Linked DNA regions of Homo sapiens. The protein of the gene in region 2 interacts with the protein of the main gene of each other region in a pairwise test. Each region holds a gene or a part of one and is shown on either strand. Other genes may lie near its edges. The genes, in order: GOLM1, TMEM109, LMNA and MTIF3.

Evidence for each region.
Region 1: the proteins of TMEM109 (region 2) and GOLM1 interact in binary tests that used the Homo sapiens proteins (3 or more experiments, as listed by UniProt).
Region 3: the proteins of TMEM109 (region 2) and LMNA interact in a two-hybrid assay, tested with the Homo sapiens proteins (one large-scale study listed by BioGRID).
Region 4: the proteins of TMEM109 (region 2) and MTIF3 interact in binary tests that used the Homo sapiens proteins (3 or more experiments, as listed by UniProt).

The regions. Positions count from the first base shown.
Region 1 is NC_000009.12:86,023,869-86,031,866, forward strand, and holds the end of GOLM1 (Golgi membrane protein 1), read right to left. Parts: intron 4,026-7,998; coding exon 3,949-4,025; 3' UTR 2,278-3,948; downstream 1-2,277.
Region 2 is NC_000011.10:60,914,544-60,921,532, reverse strand, and holds part of TMEM109 (voltage-gated monoatomic cation channel TMEM109 precursor), read right to left. Parts: intron 3,918-6,989; exon of another isoform or gene 2,380-3,917; intron 1,848-2,379; 5' UTR 1,840-1,847; coding exon 1,603-1,839; intron 648-1,602; coding exon 545-647; intron 1-544. UniProt on the Homo sapiens protein: Functions as a voltage-gated monoatomic cation channel permeable to both potassium and calcium. Plays a role in the cellular response to DNA damage.
Region 3 is NC_000001.11:156,128,211-156,131,710, forward strand, and holds part of LMNA (lamin), read left to right. Parts: intron 1-1,616; exon of another isoform or gene 1,617-1,639; coding exon of another isoform or gene 1,640-1,698; intron 1,699-2,406; coding exon 2,407-2,563; intron 2,564-3,500.
Region 4 is NC_000013.11:27,432,384-27,439,592, forward strand, and holds the end of MTIF3 (translation initiation factor IF-3, mitochondrial), read right to left. Parts: intron 4,891-7,209; coding exon 4,733-4,890; intron 3,511-4,732; coding exon 3,292-3,510; 3' UTR 3,260-3,291; downstream 1-3,259. Other genes in the region: GTF3A (transcription factor IIIA), read left to right, coding at 348-421, 1,756-1,836, 2,422-2,651, 2,750-2,809, 3,050-3,214. UniProt on the Homo sapiens protein: IF-3 binds to the 28S ribosomal subunit and shifts the equilibrium between 55S ribosomes and their 39S and 28S subunits in favor of the free subunits, thus enhancing the availability of 28S subunits on which protein synthesis initiation begins.

The DNA.
Region 1 (7,998 bases), on a different chromosome or scaffold from region 2:
GAGAGGAGGTTTCACTATGTTGCCCAAACTGACCCAAACTTGTGGGCTCAAGCAGTCCTCCTGCCTCAGCCCCCAGAGTAGCTGGGATTATAGGCAAATGCCTGCTTGGCTAGTTTTTGTTTTTAAACAGCAGGTTTCTAATTATAAAAACAAATTTGCCATTTTATAATTTTTAAAGTAATCTGCCATTCAAGGTACTTACTGAAAAAAACAATAGGAGAAATAAGACAGTCTCCTGTCATAGAGCTTTTATCATCTTACGACAAATACAGAAAAGCAACAGGTATTGAAAATGCAGTGAAGAATATGCTGTATGCTGGGTAGGAGAACTGCCCCACGTGAAACTTTAGGTGACAAATCCCCATCGCATCTATTCAGGAGGCACTGCTGGGAAAAGGGTCCCAGACAGAATGTGCACAGGCTTGGAGGGGAGAGGGTAGCAGCCTGGCCGAAGTATAGAGCAGGAAAAGGATGGCGGAGATGAGAGGCAAGGAGAAGCCGATACCCAAAACCCTGGGAGGCCACAGGTTAAAGATTTTGGACTTTATTCTGATATTGGTAGATTCTACTGAAGGCTTGTATGCAGGGACATGATGGGATCAAGTCAAATCTGCTTGCCTGAGAATGGTTGAAAAGGGAGGCAGGGAAGCCAGTCACGTGAGAGAAAATGTTGGTCTTAACAAAGGTAGTGGCAGAGCAGGTGGAAGAAAGTGGATGAAATCAAATGTTTTCAGAGGTACAGCTAATGGGACATGGTGAATGAGAGTTTCTGCCAAAATCAAGGATGATTTTTCAGAAATTTTTTTGGCTTTGGCAACTAGACGATGGTGGTGCCACTTGTGTAGATATCTAGGCAAGGTAGGAGACCAGGTTTGGGATAAAGATTGCTTTAGACATTGAGATATCTTTGGGACATCCTGGTGAAGATGGCAGGTAGTTTGGTCTCAAACTGGGAGGTGCCATCTGGGGTGGAGATGAACTGAGGACTCAGTAACTATAGTCACTGTAATTTTCTGGGGGTTGCCATTGCTCAGGGAGCTCCTAGAGTAAGGGACTGAGATAGGTCCCAAGGAATAGACTTGGGAGGGCCAGGGAATGGGGAGGCCACTGAGGTGGTGGGACAGGCTGCAGGGAAGAATACCTCAAAATCATACGAGGCCACTCTTTGACAAGTGTGCCTGTTTCACCGTTTTGTTTGCACAAGACTCTAAGACAGTATACTGCCTTAAATAAAGTGCACCCTGTTTGGAAAAGTTCAGGAGAGGTGGGTGTTTTCCTTGTTCCTCTTTGGCTATGCTCTGGGCACTGGAAAAAGCCTGCAAAGGAGACTTATCAGGAAAATAAGCAGAATGAGGGCCATATGCCGCTCAGAGGCCATTAAGAGAAGGACTGAAAAGAGCCCATTGAACTTGGCAAGTAAAGATTGCTGGCGACTGGGGCGAGCTCTTTCTTGAAGGGGTGGGGCAGAAGCTGGAAAGTCAGTTGAGGTGTAGACCATGCAGTGAGGAAAGAGCGACTCAACTGGGCTTGAAGAACTGACTTCCCCATATTCATACTTGCCCCACTCTATTTGTGGAGTGGCTGGTATGATCTTAAAAGATCATAAAATGCAAGCATGGTCACTTGACAACTCTACTTAAAATCCACTGTTCTCTAATGAATGACCTAGTCTTTACCCAGAATGCCAGTTTGACCCCTTCTGCCTCTCCTACTTCGTTTCTGCCCTCTCCATTTGGCCCCTCAGGCTGCAGCCACATTGGCCCCCTGAGACCACCAAGCCTTTAGTATCAAATTTTGGAGACTCACATGAAGTTATTATGCAACAGCTCTCTGAGTCTTTACACTGATCACGAAATCAGGAGATTGAGACCATCCTGGCTAACAAAGTGAAACCCCATTTCTACTAAAAATACAAAAAATTAGCCGGGCATGGTGACATGCATCTGTAGTCCCAGCTACTTGGGAGGCTAGGACTACAGATGCGTGTCACCAGAGGTGACTGTTCTATTTTGTTGGAACAGCCCACAGCCCTCTCCATTGTTGGCTGAATCTGTCGTGATCCCTAGGGCAGCCTGGAGAAAGCATGCAGAGTGCACACGTGGTGAGCACAAAGCTTTCGGGGTACTGTGGGTTGAAGACGTCCTGACAGCCCATCTCATTCCACAGAAGGTTTAAGGCAAACTGCCATCCTTAGTCCACAGTTTGAGGGTGGATTCTTTAAGGATCTAATAGAGGATGAAGGGGAAAAGCAAAAAAACAGAGCTGTGACAAGTTTTATAAGTTGAACAGAACATTTTATTTCTCAGCAATTCTATGCGTACAAATTAAACATGAGATGAATAGAGACTTTATTGAGAAAGCAAGAGAAAATTCCTATCAACCCCAAGGAGGACTCAAAGTGAGGCTGGAAGAGGACTTAGAAGAGTATGAAAGTACTCTAAGATTTTATCTAAGTTGCCTTTTCTGGGTGGGAAAGTTTAACCTTAGTGACTAAGGACATCACATATGAAGAATGTTTAAGTTGGAGGTGGCAACGTGAATTGCAAACAGGGCCTGCTTCAGTGACTGTGTGCCTGTAGTCCCAGCTACTCGGGAGTCTGTGTGAGGCCAGGGGTGCCAGCGCACCAGCTAGATGCTCTGTAACTTCTAGGCCCCATTTTCCCCTCTGAAAATAAGAGGGTTGGATCAAACGATCTCTGGGGCCTTAGCATCTCAAATCCTGTGGATCCTCCTACTTACCCCTTAGAGAGCCTTACTGGGAAGTCAGTCATTAATGATGTGGCCAGTTATTTGCAAGTGGTAAGAGCCTATTTACCATAAATAATACTAAGAACCAACTCAAGTCAAACCTTAATGCCATTGTTATTGTGAATTAGGATTAAGTAGTAATTTTCAAAATTCACATTAACTTGATTTTAAAATCAGTTTTGTGAGTCATTTACCACAAGCTAAATGTGTACACTATGATAAAAACAACCATTGTATTCCTGTTTTTCTAAACAGTCCTAATTTCTAACACTGTATATATCCTTCGACATCAATGAACTTTGTTTTCTTTTACTCCAGTAATAAAGTAGGCACAGATCTGTCCACAACAAACTTGCCCTCTCATGCCTTGCCTCTCACCATGCTCTGCTCCAGGTCAGCCCCCTTTTGGCCTGTTTGTTTTGTCAAAAACCTAATCTGCTTCTTGCTTTTCTTGGTAATATATATTTAGGGAAGATGTTGCTTTGCCCACACACGAAGCAAAGTAAATAAAGACCACAAATGTTCAAATTCTAAGCCACTTAATAGCGTTTTGTACATTAAAAATGACAAGGGTTATTATACAAGTAGCCTTTTAAAAAATTCTCACACAGAACAGCTTTGTATTTAGACTTAAAGCTGTTGCTACTTTGCTAGTGACGTTTGTGTTAACAGTCAGTGCTCTAGGCCATTGATTGATTGATTGTCAGAATCAGAAGTGACTACACAAGAGCATTAGCCAGACTTTTCAGTGAGAACAGGTAACAGGCTGGCACCAGCACTTGGTACAGCACGTGGACAGGACGACGGAACCCAGAGTTCTCTGTCTCTCCTTCACAGCAGATGGACTCTTCTATAGGTGGCTGTTAATTTACACAAAGTTATATTCCAGAATCAGGAAGCCCCGCTGTCGCCAACACTTGAAGGAGAACTATGTTCCAGTTTTGGTGTTGAACTTCTCACGAAATACCTACTACCAAAAATTGTGACACCTTATTAGACACTTCCAAAGTACCCCCCAAAAGCTGTTTAAAAGACCATTCCATTTTTTCCTACACAAAGTGCATACTAAAATTTCACAATAATCATCTTCAGATGTACATTTTATTTAGTACATTTCACAGTTTTCAGTATTCAGTCCCTCATGAACATTTTATAGTCATCTCTTCGGCCCTGTTGTGAAATATGTGATTCCAGTTCAATTCAGAGTGTATGATTCCGCTTTTCACGCTGATCAAGTAAATTTATGGTGTCTCTTTTCTGATCTTCAACATTAAAAACTAAAAAGGAAAAACACATAATATTCTATAGAGTATTAAATGAGATACTAGCCCTAGGCAGGTCCCATTTTCTTATCAACTTCTAGAAACTGTCATAAAGAGGACTGCATCTCCCACAGCAACACTGTAATTGGGAGTTGTATTCCTCATCAAGGACAAGATGGCAACGGTGATATGGGAGGGGGACAGGGAAGTGCTGGGTAGAGAAGGGCAGGGTCACTGGCAAGGGCTCCACCCTCAGGCTTGTGCCCATGGACCTAATGAGAACAAGGACTCCTGTCTTCTTGCCCAAATGTTGCATTTTCCAAGACCACTCTGGCCTGCCATGCCACCCATTCTGTGCCTATAAAAACCCTGAGACCCCAGCGGGCACACACACAAGCGGCTGGACGTCAAGAGGAACACACTGGCAGAAGAACACATCGAAAGACGCTGGCAGGCCATTGATGGTGGAACGATTCGGACGCCAAGGGAAATTCGGCCAAGGACAGTAGGAGATCCCGGCTGCTGAGCAGCCAGACTCCAGAGGAAGACTACCTTCCCATGCTATCCCCCTTCTGGCTCCCCAGCCATCTGCTGAGAGCTACTTCCACCACTCAATAAATCTTGCATTCATTCTCCAAGCCCACATGATCTGATTTTTTCAGTACACTAGGGCAAGAACCTGGGATACAGAAAGCCCTCTGTCCTTGCGATAAGGCAGAGGGTCTAATTGAACTGATTAACACAAGCTGCCTGTGGACAGCTAAGCTGAAAGAACGCACTGCAACACACACCCAGTGGGGCTCCAGGAGCTGTAACCACTCAACCCTAGATGCTGCCGCGGGGTTGAAACCCATCCTCCCCACAACCTGTCCGTCCGCATGCTTCCCCTAGGGGTTTGAGCTGTGGGGCACTGAAGAAGAAAGCCATACCCCCATTGCATGCCCTGTGAAGGGGATAAGGGAACTTTTTTTTTTTTTTTTTTTTTTTTGAGACGGAGTCTGGCTCTATCACCCAGGCTGGAGTGCAGTCGTGCGATCTCAGCTCACTGCAAGCTCCACCTCCGGGGTTCACGCCATTCTCCCGCCTAAGCTTCCCGAGTAGCTGGGACTACAGGCGCCCGCCACCACGCCCGGCTGATTTCTTTTTGTTGTTGTAGTTTTAGTAGAGGCGGGTTTTCACCCTGTTAGCCAGGATGATCTCGATCTCCTGACCTCGTGATCCGCCCGCCTTGGCCTCCCAAAGTGCTGGGATTACAAGCGTGAGCAACCACGCCCAGCTGGAACTCCTCCCCTTTCAAAGTGTCCAAATGGATGACCAACAATGTGCCATGAAACAAAGCTGAAGCACCTAAAGATTCCATACTTGTTTGTAACAGTGACATAATGCCCCATATGCCATAGAAAATGGACAGTATCAAGTGCACTCATGACATTTTAAATATAATCACCACGCTCCTGTGCGGCGTGACTCCCTTGCTACTGCACTTCTAATGGCACACGCTGCCTCCTGAGAGCTGTCTGCAGCTTCAGACAGCTCTTGTGACTCCAAAGCTCTCCCTTTACAGAGCTGATGTCTGTATGTAGCTTCTACCATCTGATCTTACTCTATCCTTTTAACACACAGAAAACATAAAAAGGCACATCACAAATAAAACCTAAAACCACGGTCTTGATTTATAACTATGGCACATTAAATGGTAGTTTAATGACCATTAAATACCTGCCATATTAAATTAACGGTATCTGTTAAAGGCTCTTAATAAAGTTGGAGCTAATGCTTTTTTCTTCTAATTTCCCTGGAGCAAGTAAGGTCTCACTGTTTCAATGACACAATCTTAAAATAATGTTGAAGCTGATGTTGACATTTCTTCAGCTTCTTCAAAGAGCTGACAAGGCACTCATTTTCTTTACCTTACCTACTTACTTTGTTTAAAACCTTGCACAAGGTCAAGTCCTTAGGACACCTGAGTGTAGGGAATGAGAGATCCAAAAAGGCTTCACCGCAAAGCCCATCATTTAGTAGGAAACTAGGCCCAATTTAAAAGGTGGTTAGAGCCGGGGTGGTGGCTCACACCTGTAATCCCAACACTTTGGGAGGCTGAGGCAGGCAGATCACCTGAGGTCAGGATTTCGAGACCAGCCTAGTGGACATGGTGAAACTCTGTCTGTACTGAAAATACAAAATTAGCTGGGCATGGTGGCATGAGCCTGTAATCCCAGCTCCCAGCTACTCAGGAGGCTGAGGCAGGAGAATCACTTAAACCCAGGAGGCGGAGACTGCTGTGAGCCAGGATTGTGCCATTGCACTCCAGCCTGGGCAAGAAGAGTGAGACTCTGTCTCAAAAAAAAAAAAAAAAAAAAAAAAGAATAGAAGTAAGACAGTGACCAGACCGTGAAACATGCTCAAGAACATAAATGAGTGGAGTCAATGACAACAGAGAGTTTGTATTTGCTTCAAAGTCTGGCTGCTAGTGTATTTTGCCATTTGCCTTTTTAAAAAATTGCCTAAATGAAGACAGCTGAAAATTCAAATTAGGACTTGGATTCTAAAAATTCCAAACAACTCTGCCAATTGAAACAACTGACATCCTGGAGAAATATAAAAGATAATTTTTAGGGGGACATTGTTGAAAAATCAGACAAGCACAGATTGAGGGACTTTCAACCAAATAACTGAGCCACTACCCTTCAAAAAAGACCAACAACATAAATGATAAACTGCTCCACGATAAAGAACACTAAAGAGGTCTGACAATAAATGCAGTGTATAATCCTGAACCCAGAAAAAAAGACATGAATTGGACACTCACTAAATTTCAACAAAGTCTACAGATTAGATAATAGCATTGTATAAACATTAATTTCCTTATTTTGGTAATTTTACTGTGGTTATATAAGATGTTAACATTTGGGGAACCTGGGTGAAGGGTATACAGAAATTTTTTGCTTTTTAAAGAAGTCTAGATTATTTCAAAATGAAAAGGTAAAAAAAATGTAAGTATTAAAACATTAAATGAATAATGCATTGCCCAGATGGTAATAAAAGAAGGTATTGTTAGCCAGACGTGGTGGCTTACGCCACCCAGCACTTTGGGAGGCCAAGGCAGGCGGATCATGAGGTCAGGAGATGGAGACCATCCTGGCCAATATGGTGAAACCCCGTCTCTAATAAAAATACAAATATTAGCTGGACGTGGTGGCGTGCGCCTCTAATCTCAGCTGCTCGGGAGGCTGAAGCAGGAGAATCGCTTGAACCCGGGAGGCAGAGGTTGCAGTGAGCCGAGATCGCACTACTGCACTCCAGCCTGGGCAACAGAGTGAGACTCCATCTGAGGAAGAAAAAAAAAAAGGGCATCGGCAGGATCAGCAAGGCCGAAACTGAAGTGAAGTAGTTGTTACAACGACTCCTGCTGCCCTGAGGATTTCTGCTGAATTCTGAAGTTTATGATGATATTTTAAAAGCAGTTACCCTCAGAGAAGATGGGGAAGTAATTCATAGTCATGAAAACTGTTAAAAAGGAAAGAAATCAAGCATTTATCCTATCTACCTTATACAAACAATACCACTGAGGTTTTTTTTTTTTTTTTTTTTTTTTTCCCCGAGACGGAGTTTCACTCTTCTTGCCCAGGCTGGAGTGCAATGTCACAATCTCGGCTCACTGCAACCTCTGCCTCCCGAGTTCACGCGATTCTCCTGTCTCAGCCTCCCAAGTAGCTGGGATTACAGGCATGTGCCACCACGCCTGGCTAATTTTCTTGTATTTAGTAGAGACGGGGTTTCACCATGTTAGTTAGGCTGGTCTCAAACTCCTGACCTCAGGTGATCCACCATCCTCGGCCTCCCAAAGTGCTGGGTTACAGGTGTTAGCCACCACGCCCAGCTGAAGTGTCTATTTCTAAGAACATTCCAATTAACAAATAACATAAAAATGAATTGATACAGGCATTGACCATCAACTGGCATCACAAAAAGAAAGACGCCAGGTTGC
Region 2 (6,989 bases):
CTCCCTGTACTGTGGCTGGCAATTAAATGAGATACTACAGCTCAGCACGATGCCTGATAGGAAGTGAACAACTGGCACGTGGTGGCGGAAGTTCTTTTTTAGGGGGTCTGGGTGGGACAGGGTTTTGCTCCATCGCCGAGGCTGGAGTGCAGTGACGTGATCCCGGCTCACTGCAACCTCTACCTCCTGGGCTCAAGCGATCCTCCCACCTCAGCTCCCAAGTAGCTGGGACAACAGACACACGCCACCATGCTTGGCTAATTTTTTATAGAGACGAGGTCTCATTATATTGCCCAGGCTGGTCTCAAACTTCTGGCCTCAAGTGACCCTCCTGCCTTGACCTCCCAAAGTGCTGGGATTACAGGCGGGAGCCACCACACCTGGCCATGGTAGTTCTTGGCTTGCTCTTTGGCCATGTCTCTGCAGAATCCTGGGAAGGGTTAAGCAGCTTGGGGAAAAGGCTAGACCCTGACAAAGATGAACTCCCACAAGTAGGAAAGTACAGGCAAAGCTCTGGCTGACTACCCAGCACTCGAACACTCACCAGCTAGTCCCAAGGCATTCAGCAGCTGTGCGGCGATCCCAGACAGAGCAAAGAAGGCCACAGAAATGGCTGATGAGATGGCCCACAACACTTGGGACGAAGACTGTGGAAAGAGCACGGAGCGAGATGAGTTCATAATGAACAACGGTCCTCGCCTTCACGCCTGATCACCACTGTCCAGGCAAGAACTGCAGGAATGTCTCAGACCTGTTTCTCACCCAGTGGTGACAGGCCTGGGTCAGAGGGTAGGGGCCTTGGGCCTGGCTGAGGGGTCCCTTCCACATCCACCTTCTAGTCTACAGGGATGGCCAACAGGCTGTCTCTCCTTCCTGAACTGGAAACTAGGGCATCTGGGACATAATTTAACTGCTTTGCTGGGATACTTTGGAGGGAGTAGTAGGTGTACTTGTGTGTGAATGACGGAGACAATCAAATACTTTTAGTAGTCACCCTATAAAACTGGAGGCCTGCTAGCTGTCCAGGGAGTCATGAAGGTGCGTGGAGAACATCTGTAAAGGGATAGGATGTTCCAGTGAAAAAGGAGTCTATCAGCTATACTATATTATGGATTTAATAAATGATTGTCTCAGCCCTTCAGTCCAGCCTATCAAAAGTATGTGATACCATGCTTGGGATGCCACCAGGTAAAAAAAGATAACCCTGCCTTAGGCTCCCAATAAGCTCAACCCACTTCTGCAGGTGAAGGAATGGATTCAGGACTTGATATTTTGCCATTTCGAGATTCTAGGTCAGATTTAGACCAAAGTGAGACTCTACAGTCACCCAGTAACATGGGCTTATAAAGATGGCTCATTTCCCAGCCTTTCTGGCAAGGAAAGGGCAGGAGCCAGGAAAGGATAGGGGTGGAGCTAAAAGGCCCTAGGACAGCAATCAAATAACGAGGAATTCAAAGACAAGTGCTGTGTGGCTTCTTTTTGTGGAATTTGGGGCTCTCTGCACCAGAGAGGATGTGGAACTAAGATGAGGTGGCCATTACCAACCTTTCTTCTTTTATTTTTCCTTAATGTGTGTAGTCACACAGGGACTACCTTCCTTACCTCTGACACCAGGTGCATGGTCTCTGGCCCAATCCAGGCATCCAGTGTCCCTCGCACAGATCGACCTATCTGGGTCAAGACATCAACTGGGGCTTCTCTCTTCTGTTGGCCTGGTGGTGCAAAGTCTCGACGGGACTGGGCCAATGCTGAGTGGAGGAGGATAAGGGCCACTAGGACCATCAGAATGGCTTTGAACACATGCTTTCCCCATGGTGAACTGATGCTGGAGGCTGCCATGACTGGGTCTGCCAGGAGAGAAGCACAGTGAGCTGAGTGCCATGGTAGACACACTCACCCTCTCAGCTCTGATTATCCCAACATCCTTCTCCACCCCTACCCCAAGCAAGCACCAAACTAACCCTGGAAAGAAAGTGCTGTTAGCTGGGAGAGGAAGGACTGGGACTTCCAACTGAAGCTGGGCACAACCATCTGACTCACAGGTTCCTCTTTCACATTCTTTACCACTTGCATATTAATTAACCAGCAAGTATTATTCAACACTTTAGAGTTGGCGAGAAGATCTCTCTAAGGTTTGTGCCAGTTCTAAAAATCTGAAGGCCTGTCCCTGTATCTTAGGTGCTATAGGCATAAAAGTATTATAAGACTCTATAAAGGCTCTGTCCCAAGGAGCTTATAATCTACTTAAGATACAGCTGGTATAAAAAACAACTTAAAAATAGCACACAAGTAGGATTACTGCCATATAATGGTATAAAGAAAAGTGCTCAGTTATGTGCTCAAACAAGAATAACTGCACATATGTCATCTTCTCTGCAGGACCATCATGTGAGGTGGCTTTTATCCTCCTCGCCCCTACTGGTACAGACGAGAAGAAACTGTGACTCAGAAGTTAAGCATTTTCCCATGGTCACTGGGCTACACAGAAAGGCCAGGATTTGAACCCAAGCTTCTGCTTCCACCCATCTTCATTAGGAGTCAAGTTATACTGTGGGTCTCAACCATGGCTGCTCACTGGAATCACCTGGAAGCTTCCCAAGTACTGATGTCTGTGTCCCCAGCCCAGAGGTTCTGATATCATTGTCTGGGTGTGGCCTAGCCTTGGATCTGCAAAAGCTCCCTAGGCAGTTCCACTGCATGAAGTTGAGAACCACTGATACAGAGTGACCTCACCTCCCCACCCCCAATGGAGGTGCTATGGTTTGAAGAGCAAAACTCATGTTGAAATTTAACTGTTCTTGCACCTCCTGCAGAGCCTGGGAGCTCCCAGTCCAGCCAAGGATGTTGGATCTCATGGTCCTAAGTACTTCTTTGACACCCCATTCCCCTCAGTAAAATAGTTTGACCCCTTCTCCACCAAAAAAAAAAAAAAAAGAAAGAAATTTAATTGCCATGATGATGGTATTAAAAGGTGGGACCTTTAAGAGGTGATTAGGTTATGAGGGTTCAGCCCTCATGAATGGATTAATGCCGTTATCTTGGGAGTGGATTAGTTATCCCAGGAATGCAGCTCCTGATAAAAAGGATGACTTTGGCCTGATTTCCTGTCTCTGTCTCATGTGCTGGGTTCTGCCTTCTGCCATAGGATGACCCTTGCCAGATGCCAGCGCCATGCCCTTAGACTTCCCAGCCTCTGGAACTGTGACCCTAATGAATTTCTGTTCATTATAAACTACGCAGGCAGTGGCATTCTGTTATAGGAAGCAGAAAATGGACGAGGACAGTGAGCAAGGGTATAATGAACAACCTTTAAAGAAATACTATTAATAAAAAGCTAACATTCAGCTAGGTCTTGCCATGCACCACCGCGCTCATTTAACTGTCACAACAGCCCATCGGGTAGGTGTTGCTATTATCCCCCATTTTACTGAAGTAATTGAGGCAGGTTAAGTATTAACTGGGGAAATCAGCATTTGAATGTAGGTACTTCTGACATTGGACCCCTCATACACAACAACTCTGCTGTATTGTCTCCAACTAAGTCTCAGAAGTGATTTAGAAAGTCATACAGGCCAGGCACAGTGGCTCATTCCTGTAATCCCAACACTTTGGGAGGCTGAGGTGGGAGGATTGCTTGAGCCCAGGAGTTTGGGAGCAGCCTGGGCAACATAGGAGACCCTGTCTCTACAAAATAAATATAAATAAATAAATTAGTCAGGTGTGGTGGTGCGTGCCTGTACTCCCAGCTATTTGGGAGGCTGAGGGGGGAGGATCACTTGAGCCCAGGAGGTCACGGCTGCAGTGAGCTATGATCATGCCACTGTATCCCATCCTGGGCAAGAGAGCAAGACGCTTAAAAAAAAAAGTCACACAACAGATTATTCATGAGTTAAAATAAACTTGGCATCTACCAATCATCTCAGTGAATTACTGGTGAAAATTACCTAACAACTTTGTGCTTTGTGCTCTGGTCTTGTAACACAATGCCACAGACAAGTTAAGACCCAACAAGTGCCAACTCATTGAAGCAGGTAAGGATCAGCCAAGAAAAAGTACACAAGTTCAACTTCTACTTGCCACTGTGCTTGAGAAATGTCAGACAGCGCCAGCAAATTCCCTGTTCCCCTCCAGGTTCAGAAATGAACCTGTAGCTCCAGGAGTTTTCATGATTCAGACCTGATGATCAGAGGCTAAGCCATGCCCCTGAGGTAGGAGCAGTCAGGTTTTTGAACTTTTTGCAGTTACACAGGCACTCAGGGAGTTGACAATAAATCCAGAGCCATGAGGGATGGAGAAGGAAGAGAATGATGTCCTAGTCTTGCTTAGGGGGAAGGAGGAGAGTCTAGGAAAGGGTTCTAAAAATACTACATTTAGGGTACTTTTTGGTCCAGAAACAGCTGCTCTAAGCCCTTCCAGAAGCCTGGAGGGTCAAGCAAGGCTGAAAAACATGCAATTCATGTAGAAGGCCCTCAGGCTGGGAAAGCCTTCTACTGTCTTTGGCACAAATCAAGAACCAGATGGTTCCTGCCTGCCAGTGGTCGCAGATGAGGAAAGCACAGGTGAGTTCCTGAGCTATCTGGGTCATAACCATGTTGGGGACTTAAAAGAGCAGGGTTGCTATCTTGGGTTGGATCCTTTATCCAAGGACCTCCACCAGGAGGGATCAAATATCGTTTCCTCAGCCCTAGGAGGTCAGGGTGCCATAAGCTGCTCCTCCCACAGCAGCCTGCCTTGTTCTGTGCCAGCCCCAACTCTCCAGTGGCTGTCTGCCCCAGTTAAGGGGAGCTAGGAGACCTTGAAATAAGCCCTCTGCAGTGAGGCTGGCATCGTTATGCAGACTGATGTTCTGAAGTGCACCAGATACCAAACCTAACAGGATTGTGTAGTGTATCCTTTGGAGATAATGAGTGCAGAGATTGGCTGGCTGGTCTGCTTTTTCAAATTGTTTTCTTTAATAGGATTCCTTCTCATTTTTTTCCAGGTGAATCTCAGGCAGTATGGACTCACTGCTATTAGGCCTCCTCACTTTGGCCTAATCAAATAGTTTTACTAAAGGCATGGAAACAGTCTCAGCCTCTGAGAGGAGGAAGCATGTCTTAAAACTTCTTCACCTTCTGCAATGCCTGGCCTCAGACAAATAATAGGCACTCAATTAACAACTCATAATAATACAAATGTTATACATATCTATACATATACATATGTTATAATAATTTTTGTGTGGTGCTTTATAATTCACAGAGTGCTTATTGTTTCATCACTTCATTTAACTCTAACAACAATCTTTTAAGGTATTATTACCCTCTTCATCTTACTCAGAAAAGTATGGCTTAGAGAGGTTGAGTGACTTATCCAAGATCACACAGCAGAGCTGGGACTTGACTCCAGTACCCAGGATCTCAATCTTGCCTTTTTGCTTGTCCCATACCCGCATGCTGCCTTGATAGTGGACATAGTCCCTGCCCTCATGGAGCTGAAGTTCACCAACAAGCTCAAAGTGGAAGGACATCCAGACTCCTCCGAGGGAACACATACCAGGAGACCATCTGCCTTCTGGGCTTACAGGCCATGGTTTTGTACCAAGAGGTATGAGAGGACAGCAAAAGGTGGGAGACAAAACCTGCCACTTCTGTTCGGCAGCTGCAATATGGCTCAGGTGGGTCTGGAGAGCCCAGCCTGGCTGGGGAAACAGCTTTACTTATTGTGTTAGTGAGAAGGCGCCACTGCTTATGTTTAGCTGTGGTTTGCTACAAGGGTAGGATGGGGCATTTCGCGCCCCCCCCTCCCAATCAAGGCTCCTTCCTCCTCTTCTCTTTCCTTTTGTTAGTTTCATTTCATGCTATGAATCACCAGGTGGCAGGAGGGGCGGCAAAAAGTGCCCTCTACCGGCTCTGACTGTCCCGCCGCTGCTCATAGCTGCCCCTAAGGAGCGGCGGTTCTCAACTTTGGCTGCCCATCGGAACTGCCTGTGCAGCCTGTTAAACAAGGACGTCTGCCCCACCCAGGGCTACTCACTCAGACTCTTCCAGAGAGGGACTCAGCCCTTTGTTTTGCAAAGCTCCTCAGGAATTTCGGATGCATAGCCAGCAGCTCAGGGAAAAGTCTAAGCAAAGCTTCAAAAGTGCAGCAGTGTACAAAGGACCCCTGACTTCCGTCCCAGGCTCAAGTGTGCCACGGACTAGAAGCTACTACCTTACGCCTGTTACTTAACCTGCCTGAGTTGCAGTCTCCTCAAACGTAAAAGGGAGTGAACCCAGGTGAAGAGTTGCTGTAAGGAGTTAAGATATTTCTGCAGCAAGCGCTTTGTAAACTAAACATCTATAGAAATGTTGCAGCACACACATTACCACTGACTATATATCGTAGCATAATTTAGCAGTTTATCAACCTGCCTTCCCCAGTAGACCGAGCGACTCCCGGTTAGACTTGACATGTTGGAATCCCCAGCGCCTAGTAGGAAAGATGACTAATAAATGTTTATTAAATGAATATTAGCAACCTGCCAAGAAACCGTGAGGGTCGAACGAGAAAGCCATGGAGAGGTGAGGAGGGAGGTTATTTTAATAGTAGATCCAAATATACAGCAGCCACACGAGAAGCACAGCTGAGTCTAAAGGAAGGTCCTAAACAAGGCGAAGCCGCCACTGCAGAGAATGAAGTCAGCGCCCTGGCAGGTTGGGGGCAGCTCCCACTAAACCCCTGACAGCTGCTGCCCAGCAACTGTTTGGGGGCAGGGCGACGGCAAAGGGGCAGCTTCCCTGCCGCTCCGCGCCCTAACCGGGGCGCAGCCTCCCGGAGACAGGGTGTCAGTGGCATGTGCTATTTCGAACGGCGCGTCCCCTGCCAAGCGCTGAGGGGTAGCGTCGCTGGCAAGGAACGTGGCGCGACCCATGAGTTTGGGGCCCCCCGAAGGGCTCGAGCCGAGGCTGCAGGAGGCTGGGCCGTGGGTCGGGGTTCGGGGGCTCGGGCTTGGCGCTGGCCTGGTCCCC
Region 3 (3,500 bases), on a different chromosome or scaffold from region 2:
AAGTGTTTGCTATTATATTATTATTATCACTGCCACCACCGCTTTTGCAAGCAGCAGAAGGTGAAGAGGTTAGACTGAAGAAAAAACTTCTGTGCTCATCAGCCCATAAGCTCGCAGAGCACAGGGATCATGCATCTATGTTTTCCTCAGTCAGTGTCTGCCAGGCACTGGCAAGGAAAGGCTGTTACCAGGGGGAACTCCAGGAATTCCTCCTGGCACCTAAGGAGGCTGGGGAGACAGGACTAGGGAAAAGGTGCCCTTGAGACACCTTCTGAAATCATCCCATTGCCTTCCAGCTTCTTTCAGCTCAGGCTGGCTGGTCAGGGAAACGCTTTGTGCCATAGTGTCTGCCCTCTTCCTCCTCCTGGCTTCTCCATTCTCTCTGGAACTTGTGGCTTAGGAAAGCAGTGAGGTGGAGGAGGAGGAACCCTAGATCAGCAGCTAGAATTGACTGGAATGCTGCTGCTGGCTTTCGGTAATTGACACTGGGCCATTCACCTTCCTCCTTTGCACCTCAGTTTCCTCATCTATAAAAGGGAGAGGGTTGAGCTGAATCAACTCTAAGCTCCTTCTAGTTCTCTAAATTCTGAGAGCCTCCTAGTACAGCCAGCAGCAGCCATTAGCCTTCAGGGTAGAGAGGCCTCTTCTGGGAAGCCCCAGCCAGCCTGGGGGTCAGCCCAAGGAGCTCGGAATCTAAGTTGCCCCAGTTGCTTCACTTTACCAGCGGTTTTTCTTCATTTTCCCTCCTCCCCCTGCAGCTGCTTCAGCTTCGGAAAAGTTCTGAAGTCATGGAAAGTTGGGGCTGTGCTCCCAGCCAGGGGCTAGGCCGGATGGCAGCCAAAACCTGAGCTGGGTTTTGACTTTATTTTTAGCTTTTCTGACTGAGACAGAGGAGGGAATACATTCTCCGGTTCTGGAAGGGGCTCTTTTTTGCAGGAGACAGACACTTACATTAAACAACTTGTTCTGAGGTGTGGCCAGAGGCCTGGACTGAGCAAGTGTGCAGGCTGGGGGAGCTTCCTCTGGCTTCTCATGTCCTTCCCCTGCCCCTCTGAGTGTCACTCTATCCTCCTCCCTGCCTGGTGGGGGGAGGTGGGGGTGACTCCTTTTTTGGACTCTCCTAAGCAGAACACTGCCTGGGTCTCGTCCTCCAGAGCTTCTGCAAATCTAGCCTTCCCTATCCCTCTTCACAGTGAATTGCTGGGCCTCTTGGAGTTTAGGACTTTTGTGGTAGAAGAAAAATGTTGGCAGGGCTGCTTTTCTCCTTTCCAGGATAGATTTTTCCTTCTGCCCACGCTTGGTTTTCCTTTTTTCCATCTGCTGTGGTGGGCTCATGCTTAAGCACTGATGAGTTACAGATGGCAGCTGGAACCAGGTCCTCTGGATCTTTCCCTCCGCTCCCTGGGTCTGCTGCTTTCTCTCACCCTATATTTGTGAAGCAATTGTAACATCTAGAAAGTTCTTGGGTTCTCTGGAGGTTTTTAAGAAAATAGGACCTTTCTATTTCTCCAGTCCACTAGCAAAAATAATCAGGGGCCCAGAAAAGGTGAGGGAGGTGGCAGAGGCAGCGCTGTTCGACTGGTTATAGCTAAAGCTTTACCCACTTTGAGGAGCAGGGAGGCTTAAAGCTGGGGCCCAGATGGACCTGGAGGCCTGGGATCCACATCTGGAACCAGATGCTGAGGCTATGGTAGATGGGTAGGGCTCAGCCTTCTCCCAGGGCACGGATGAGGCAGGAGGGAGGGAGGCAGGGACCCCTCTGTTCAGTGCAGATCAGGGCACCCAGACTGGGTCCTGAGAAAGGAAAGGGTCAATATTGTGCCTGGTCATCCTTGTCTGAGGTCCCTCTGAGCTCTAACCAGACTTTCCTTCCCCACAGTCCCACATGTGTAAAAGGGACTAGGAGAGGTGACCAGTACCTTTGGGGCTCAGATCGAGAAGTGCTAGGGACATGTGGGCCATGAGCTTAGTTGTCAGGCTCCTCAGAGGGAGGGAAGCTTGGCCAAAGGGAAGTGAGTAGAGTCCAGGGAGAAGGCTAAGTAAGGCCCTGTGTGGGAAGGGGCAGGAGACAAAGGTACCCCTGTCTCTTTGGGAAAGAATGGGAGGAGAGAGAGGGAAAAGCATTCATATCACGGGGTAGAGCTCTGCCCTTGGCCCCAGGCACGTTCCTGAGCCCTGAGTCATGGGAAGGGTGGAGAAGCAGGAAGGGGGTTTTCAAGGACCTTGGGGAGGTGGGAGCCCAGCCCCAGAGGCAAGCAGATGCAAACCAACCTAATGCAAGGATGCCCTCTCCTGGTAATTGCAGGCATAGCAGCGCCAGCCCCCATGGCTGACCTCCTGGGAGCCTGGCACTGTCTAGGCACACAGACTCCTTCTCTTAAATCTACTCTCCCCTCTCTTCTTTAGCAATACCAAGAAGGAGGGTGACCTGATAGCTGCTCAGGCTCGGCTGAAGGACCTGGAGGCTCTGCTGAACTCCAAGGAGGCCGCACTGAGCACTGCTCTCAGTGAGAAGCGCACGCTGGAGGGCGAGCTGCATGATCTGCGGGGCCAGGTGGCCAAGGTGAGGCCACCCTGCAGGGCCCACCCATGGCCCCACCTAACACATGTACACTCACTCTTCTACCTAGGCCCTCCCCCATGTGGTGCCTGGTCTGACCTGTCACCTGATTTCAGAGCCATTCACCTGTCCTAGAGTCATTTTACCCACTGAGGTCACATCTTATCCTAATTTGGCTGCCAATGGGATCTACCACAGTGAATTTAAAATAATCCAGGAGGCCGGGCATGGTGGTTCACGCCTGTAATCCCAGCACTTTAGGAGGCCGAGGTGGGCCGATCACGAGGTCAGGAGATCGAGATCATCCTGACTAACATGGTGAAACCCCGTCTCTACTAAAAATACAAAAAATTAGCCTGGCATGGTGGCGGGCGCCTGTAGTCCCAACTACTCGGGAGGCTGAGGCAGGAGAATGGCGTGAGCCTGCGAGGCAGAGCTTGCAGTGAGCTGAGATCATGCCACTGCACTCCAGCCTGGGCAACAGAGTGAGACTCCGTCTCAAAAAAATAATAATAATAATAATAAAAATAATCCAGGCCATGTGTGGTGGCTCATGCCTGTAATCCCAGCATTTTGGGAGGCCAAGGAGGCAGGATTGCTTGAGTCCAGGAGTTTGAGACCAGCCTGGGCAACACAGACCCCATCTCTAGAAAATAAAAATTTAAAGAAATTAGCTGGGCATGGTGGTGTGCACCTATAGTCCCAGCTACTTGGGAGGCTGAGGCAGGAGGATGGCTTGAACCTGAGAGGTCGAGGATACAGTGAGCTGTGATTGCACCACTGCACTTCAGCCTGGGTGACAGAGGGAAACCCTGTCTCTACATAAATAAATACATAAAATAAAATAATCCACAAGCCATTTCTACTTAACTTTGCAATGAACTGTACCTGACCCTAGATCCCTCCCAGTTTGGCCCTCCGGTATACAAGGGCCTCCTAT
Region 4 (7,209 bases), on a different chromosome or scaffold from region 2:
CAAGTGATTCAGAATGGCTTAGGGGTTTATCTAAGCCAAGTCAGATAACCTCTTGAACTATCTTTTTGTAGCCATGAAAGCAGAGTATATTTCCAGAGGTATAAAGATGAAAACTGTTTAAATGGGTCAAAAAAAGTAACGTGACTTTTTTCTCCAACAGTTTGTTTTGTCCTAAAGCTGGTCAAGTAACTTGAATCTCACCTGTGATGAGAGCTACATTTTAACATGGGTTTGGTTATGGGAAGAGGCAAGACTTTGGTGGGAGAAACAGGACAAAGTGCCATTGACCTTGAGCGGAGTTCTCTGTGAAAATGGATTGGCTAATACCTCATGTGTTGCCAATGCAGGTGTACCCAGGAAGGATGTGGGAAACACTTTGCATCACCCAGCAAGCTGAAACGACATGCCAAGGCCCACGAGGGTGTGTACGGATAGCCTGGGTGTGCTCCGAGGGGGATGCCAAATCCTGGGCGCCTTTGAATCTGTTCTGTGATCACGCTGAAAAGATGGGAACCCTGTGAACAGGGGACACCATCCTGCTTATTTGGGTCTTACACTCTTGTCCAAAGAGGCACTGTATATGTCTGTTTTTCCACTACCGTATCATTGCTGTTCACATGTAATGTGTTGTTTGTTCACAACAAGCGCCTGGTTACACATTACACTGACGAATGTGCTGATGCTCCAGCCATGGCTTTGATGCTTCTGTCATTTTTAACCTCTTCTATTAATATTTACTGCCTGTGCCATTCTTTTCCTTGTTGGCCATTCACAAGGCTTGGATAATCGTGTGACATTTTGAGAGCCATCAGATGTTACGTTTCTCAAAAAAAAAAAAAAAAGACTTGATTATATTAACTATTTGAATCTATGATCTGTTTCCTTGAGGGATTTTTGCTAATCTGTATTTCAATTTCCCAGGTCCTAGAATTTATGATTTTTTTTTTTTTAAGAGGTTAGTAGCTAACAGTGAGAGGCAGCCTCATTGTTTTTAGTTTCTAGTTGGGTGGAACTCAGCCCTAGTGTTGTATACTTATTAATCCCATTTTAGTGCTTTGCACATATCCATTGTTATTCAGTGTTTTTCTCTGGGTCCTTCCAGTTTATTTTCTTCCTTAGCTGTACTCTTTTAAAAAAAAAAAACAAAAAAAAACTTTTTTTTTTTTTTTTGTGATAAAGTTAAAATATAATGTACCCTACTTTTTTTGTGCAGTATGACACTTACAAGATGGCCAGACTAGAGGAAGCCAGAGGTGGGCATGGTAACACTACTGAAAAGTTGGTGGTGTGCCATGGACAAGGGACCGACTGCAGAGTATGTTTGCTGAGGAAAATAGAGGCGAGGATAGAGCAGGCAGGGGAAGGGAAATAAGACATGGAGATAGGAGGTTAAAGCAGTTGGGAGTCCATACACAGCCTACCCAACTTCCTGAGAACTCTTAGAGAGGAAAAGGCATCCTTAGGCATCCTTCCTGTGAAGTTTGCCTATTCCGTGATCACGCTGAGAAGATGGGAACTCTGAAGTTTGCTTCACAGGAAGGTAAAATCCTTAAAGGGAGGCACCTTGCTGTGCCACTGTTCAGTTTTACTATAACATCAATCTTTTTTTAGTTTTTATTCCCACCTCAAGAGGCTGAGTTGAATACTATTAGGCGGGGAATGGAAAATTATATAGGCACCTAAGTTTCCTTTCTAGTTATGGTCAGTGTTTACACTGAGTATTCATGACAGACAATGCACCAATTTTTTTAATAGGCTATGTATGTCAAAAAGGATGTTCCTTTGTGGCAAAAACATGGACGGAACTTCTGAAACATGTGAGAGAAACCCATAAAGGTAAGGCAGGCATGAATGGCAGGCATGGTGTAAATGTTTGTCCCCACAGAACTGATTTAGTGCTTTTCAAGAGTGAAATGCTGTGTGCTTTAAAGTAAAAGGGTTTCTCTATGATATTTTGTGAAGTGCTGGGTATGATGTTGTTGGAAAGGTGAGCAGAGCTGTGCCAGGTCTCTGAGCCACCCCACCATGCACAATTAGCATGCTGAAGGCGGTGGCAGGTCTGTAGTGAAGAATTTCGGGAGGCACTGCTGTTCTGTGGGACCGCCTGGGAAACAGTACCCTGCATACTGGGGGACAAGGAAGGACACTGGTCTGCTTCATTTTCTGTACCTCCCCACAGTCACCTTCCTGAGAGCCCTGCCTCTTGGCAAGTGAACAATGACTGTGTGGCATTTAAGAACTTCAGAGAATTGAGACAAACTTCCTAGGTGATAAAAACTGGGGTTGTTTCCTTGGGAATTTCTGATTTGTATATAGTGATCAGGTTTCAGGCACTGAATGTTACTTATATATTAGGTATTAATTTTTTCTAAATGGTAATATCTGGGGAAATTTGTGAAATTTGTCTGTCTGTCCCACCAGAGGAAATACTATGTGAAGTATGCCGGAAAACATTTAAACGCAAAGATTACCTTAAGCAACACATGAAAACTCATGCCCCAGAAAGGGATGTATGTCGCTGTCCAAGAGAAGGCTGTGGAAGAACCTATACAACTGTGTTTAATCTCCAAAGCCATATCCTCTCCTTCCATGAGGAAAGCCGCCCTTTTGTGTGTGAACATGCTGGCTGTGGCAAAACATTTGCAATGAAAGTAAGCACTCACCCTCATACTCATGGTCCTATAGTCTATGCTTTCACAACATGGTTTTCATATTAATATTTCATTAATAACTTTCTCTTTCATTGTAGCAAAGTCTCACTAGGCATGCTGTTGTACATGATCCTGACAAGAAGAAAATGAAGCTCAAAGTAAGTTGAAACTACTTAGGCAAGCTTAGTTTTCAAGTGGAAATTGTTTAAGGCCAGAAGGAGTCTGTTTGGAATTCTTTTCACCTGCTTTACTGTTTGAGTCTGCACTACTGTTGAAGACTTTACTTCCTCATAAAGCAATGTTGTACACTATATCTGCTGGTACATATGACTATCGTAAAATTAACTCAGACAGTTTTGATTTTGAATTCTAATCGTGTGTCTTCCTTATTCCCAAAGGTCAAAAAATCTCGTGAAAAACGGAGTTTGGCCTCTCATCTCAGTGGATATATCCCTCCCAAAAGGAAACAAGGGCAAGGCTTATCTTTGTGTCAAAACGGAGAGTCACCCAACTGTGTGGAAGACAAGATGCTCTCGACAGTTGCAGTACTTACCCTTGGCTAAGAACTGCACTGCTTTGTTTAAAGGACTGCAGACCAAGGAGCGAGCTTTCTCTCAGAGCATGCTTTTCTTTATTAAAATTACTGATGCAGAACATTTGATTCCTTATCATTTCCATGGTCTTTGTTCAAAGTGTCTCTTTCCTGGGTCTCTTGAGTTTCTTTATATGCCTTCTCCTCATTTTTGCTGAAAGCACGAAGAACACACATTAAAGCTTTTCCTCCTTGAACAGCTTGTGGCCTAGATGAGAATGTAGCTATTCCAGGCATAGTCTGGAGTATTTGATGAAATATCTCCTCCTAAAAAAGGGAAACAGCCAAAGATTAATTTAAAATCAGAGGCTTTGGTGCTTTCTAATGTTCTGCTTGAACATTCACAAAAACTGGCACCCTTGAATTGCTGCTGTCGGTTAAGTGATTAGCTAATCAGTTCATACGTATCTGGTTAAGTTGACTGAAATCTGTACAATAACACCATGTAACTAAACTGACATGCTGAATGCTTCCTAATTTTAAATCTCCACTTCGTCATGGCACGAAGAGGCTACGTTTGGCTCAGCATTACCCTCTCCCACAAACAGAAAGCACTGGGTTTGGGCATTGGCAAAATACCTCCTCATCCCCAAGGTGTCAGCCGAGCAGTTCTCAGCACTCTCTATTGCCCCTAACAGAGTCTCTCTCAGTGACTGAAACAAATGGATACCTGGGCTCAAGAAATTCTGCATCAGCTGGGTTGCGACCTATGCTTAAGTGACTCTACTGTGGAGCTGGATTACTAAGGATACCCTTAGTGGATGATAAAGTTATCTAACTTTTAAAAAAAAAAAGCAAAATAGGTATTCCATAAACTTATGGGATTGGAAACTACACACTTTCTAGAAGACAGTCTACGTAATTAATGCCCCTATAAGTACAAAGAAGAAACAAAAAATCTATAAAGTTTCTAATTTTCCTGTTTAAGGGTTATTCTACAATTTATAAAACAATAGTATATTGCTTTTAAGGAATAATGTGTTCATATGGCAAAATACGCTGTAATGGAAACTATATCTACAGTATGCTTAGTTTTGAAAAGCAAACTAGAAAGCTGTTAACATCACTGGGTGGAAGAATTACCAGTCACTTTGTCTTTATATTTCAGATTTTCTACAATTTTTTTTTTTTTTTTTTTTTTTTGAGACGGAGTCTTGCTCTGTCACCCAGGCTGGAGTGCAGTGGCGCGATCTCGGCTCACTGCAAGCTCCGCCTCCCGGGTTCACGCCATTCTCCTGCCTCAGCTTCCCCAGTAGCTGGGACTACAGGTGCCCGCCACCACGCCTGGCTAATTTTTTGTATTTTTAGTAGAGACGGGGTTTCACCATGTTAGCCAGGTTGGTCTCAATCTCCTGATCTCGTGATCCGCCCACCTTGGCCTCCCAAAATGCTGGGATTACAGGCGTGAGCCACCGCGCCTGGCCTACAATTGTATTTTTAGATCAGAAGACCCAAAGCACAAGCAGTGGCTTGTACCTTCTTTACTTACCATTTCATTTTCTGACACGTCTACATTTTTTCCTTTCTTTATGGTAATCTGGACTAGGTGTTTTTTCTTAATCCACTGCTGAATCTGTTTAGTCTTTGTGTCCAAATCATGTTGTCCAATATTTGAAGACAAAATCAGTTCCTTTCTCAGGGTTGGTCCTGGTTTGAAACAGATAGGGTGCAAGGACTACTGACTAGTCCACTGTGAACCCTGAACTTCCCAACATGCCCATCATAAAATCCTAGGTTGCCACCTGACAATCTTCTCATCTGGCTTTCAGTTTCACAGACCAGTAAATGTCTTTTCAAATGGGGAAGATACACATAAAGGTACCAATTTTTTACCTGCCCTGGAAGGGTACTTAAAATCTGAAATGCTTCCATTTATTGTTAACCATCGTTTGTTGAAAGAACACCAAAAGATAGTCGTTTAAAGGATCAAGTTTGGCTTCATGGTGCACTTAACATCCTTATCTATCAGCTGTGGGTTGGCATCTGGGAGTGCACTACCCACTCCTTTTGAGATGCTCTCCTTGCTATAAGGGGTCAGCCAGACTGTTGGACAGGTAAGGGTCCCTACATCCTGTGTTCATGCCCTCTGTCTCCAGAAATCCTGCCTACTGGAAAATTATAGAGAAGGAACCGGCCACTCAATAAAGGTGTTGGGACAATTGAGAAGTTTATAGATGACAAAAAGTTAGGTCTCCCCAGGTATACTAATGTTCTACAGGTGAAAAATACAACTTTAAAACAAACAGAAGAAAAGACAGAATGGTTTGTGATCTCAGGATAGGGGATGGAACTCATTAAGAAAAAAAGGCAAAATGAAAAATCTAACTGGGATACGGTTTTTTCCATCATACACAACAGAGAACCCTATAAATCGGAGAAAAACCATCTACGTAGAAAAATAAAGGAATATAAACACGCAATTCACAGAAGAAAAAAGTGAAATACACATTAATTTCTCACCATTAAAATGACAAATGAGGGAGGAGGTAGAGAAACTGCATACACTGCTGCTGAGCAGTTTGATCCATTTAGGTTCATAGACCCTAGAGTATGCACCAGGGTTCATCATAAAGATTGGGGGCCAGGTGTGCTGGCTCACGCCTATAATCCCAGCACTTTGGGAGGCTGAAGCAGGCAGATCGTTGGAGCTCAGGAGTTCAAGACCTGAGCAACATAGCGAGACCCCATCTCTACAAAAAAAAAAAAAAAAAAAAAAGGCCAGGCATGGTGGTGTGCACCTGTGGTCCCAGCTGTGTGGGAGGCAGAGGTGGGAGGATTGCTGGATCCCAGGAGATGGAGGCTGCAGTGAGCCGAAATCACACCACAGCACTCCAGCCTGGGCAACAGAGCAAGACTGTTTTTTTTTTTTTTTTTTTTTTTTTTAAACACAGGGTCTCGCTCTGTCACCCAGGCTGAAGTGCAGTGGCATGATCATGGTTCTTCACTGCAGCCTTTGCCTCCTAGGCTCAAGTGATCCTCCCACCTCAGCCTCCCAAGTAGCTGGGATCACAGGTTTGCACCACTACACCTTGCTAATTTTAAAATTTTTTGTAGAGATGGGGTTTTGCTATATTGCCCAGGCTGGTATTGAATTCCTGAGCTCAAGCCATCCACCTGCCTTGGCCTCCCAAAGTGCTGGGATTACAGACGTGAGCCACCACGCCCAGTGACCTTTTTTTTTTTAAGTGACATAGTTTGACGTCATTATCCTCCCTGGTTGGTCTCTTCTGAATATTGTTTTCCAGTCAACATCCTTGTTAAATGTGGCATTACAAAACTGAGCCGCAGATAACATGTGGTTTTCTGAAGGCACACAACCTCACGATGCAGTGCTGGGAGCAGTCATCTGATGCCTGTCCCCGTGCGCCATCCATTGAACTTTCATAATGATTGGCACTTTTTAGGAACTATGAAAAACAAACATCTTTGCTTAATATCCAATTCCTGACTTCTGTGAGGCTTAAATGACAAGTGCCTCGTCAAGTGACTGGTTGTATATCTAAGAGTGTTGCTACTGATATTGCAACACAATGCTTTGGCATGGGAGATGCTCTGTGAATCACTTCAGAGTCGAAAAGGTGCTTCCAGGCTAGGCGCAGTGGATCACGCCTGTAATCCCAGCACTTTGGGAGGCCGAGGAGGGCAGATCACTTAAGGCCAGGAGTTCAAGACCAGCCTGGCCAACATGGTGAAACCCCCTCTCTATTAAAAATACAAAAATTAGCCGGGCGTGGTGGCGGGCGCCTGTAATCCCAGCCACTGGGGAGGCTAAGGCAGGAGAATCGCTTGAGCCTGGGAGGCGAAGGTTGCAGTGAGCACACATCGCACCACTGCACTCCAGCCTGGGCGGCAGGCAGAGACTCATCTCAAAAAAATAAAAAGGTGCTTCCAGATAATTAACCAAACACCTCCACTTTAGAGTTGAAGAAGGGGAAGAAAAACAAAAGGAGGGAGGTTAAATGAGTG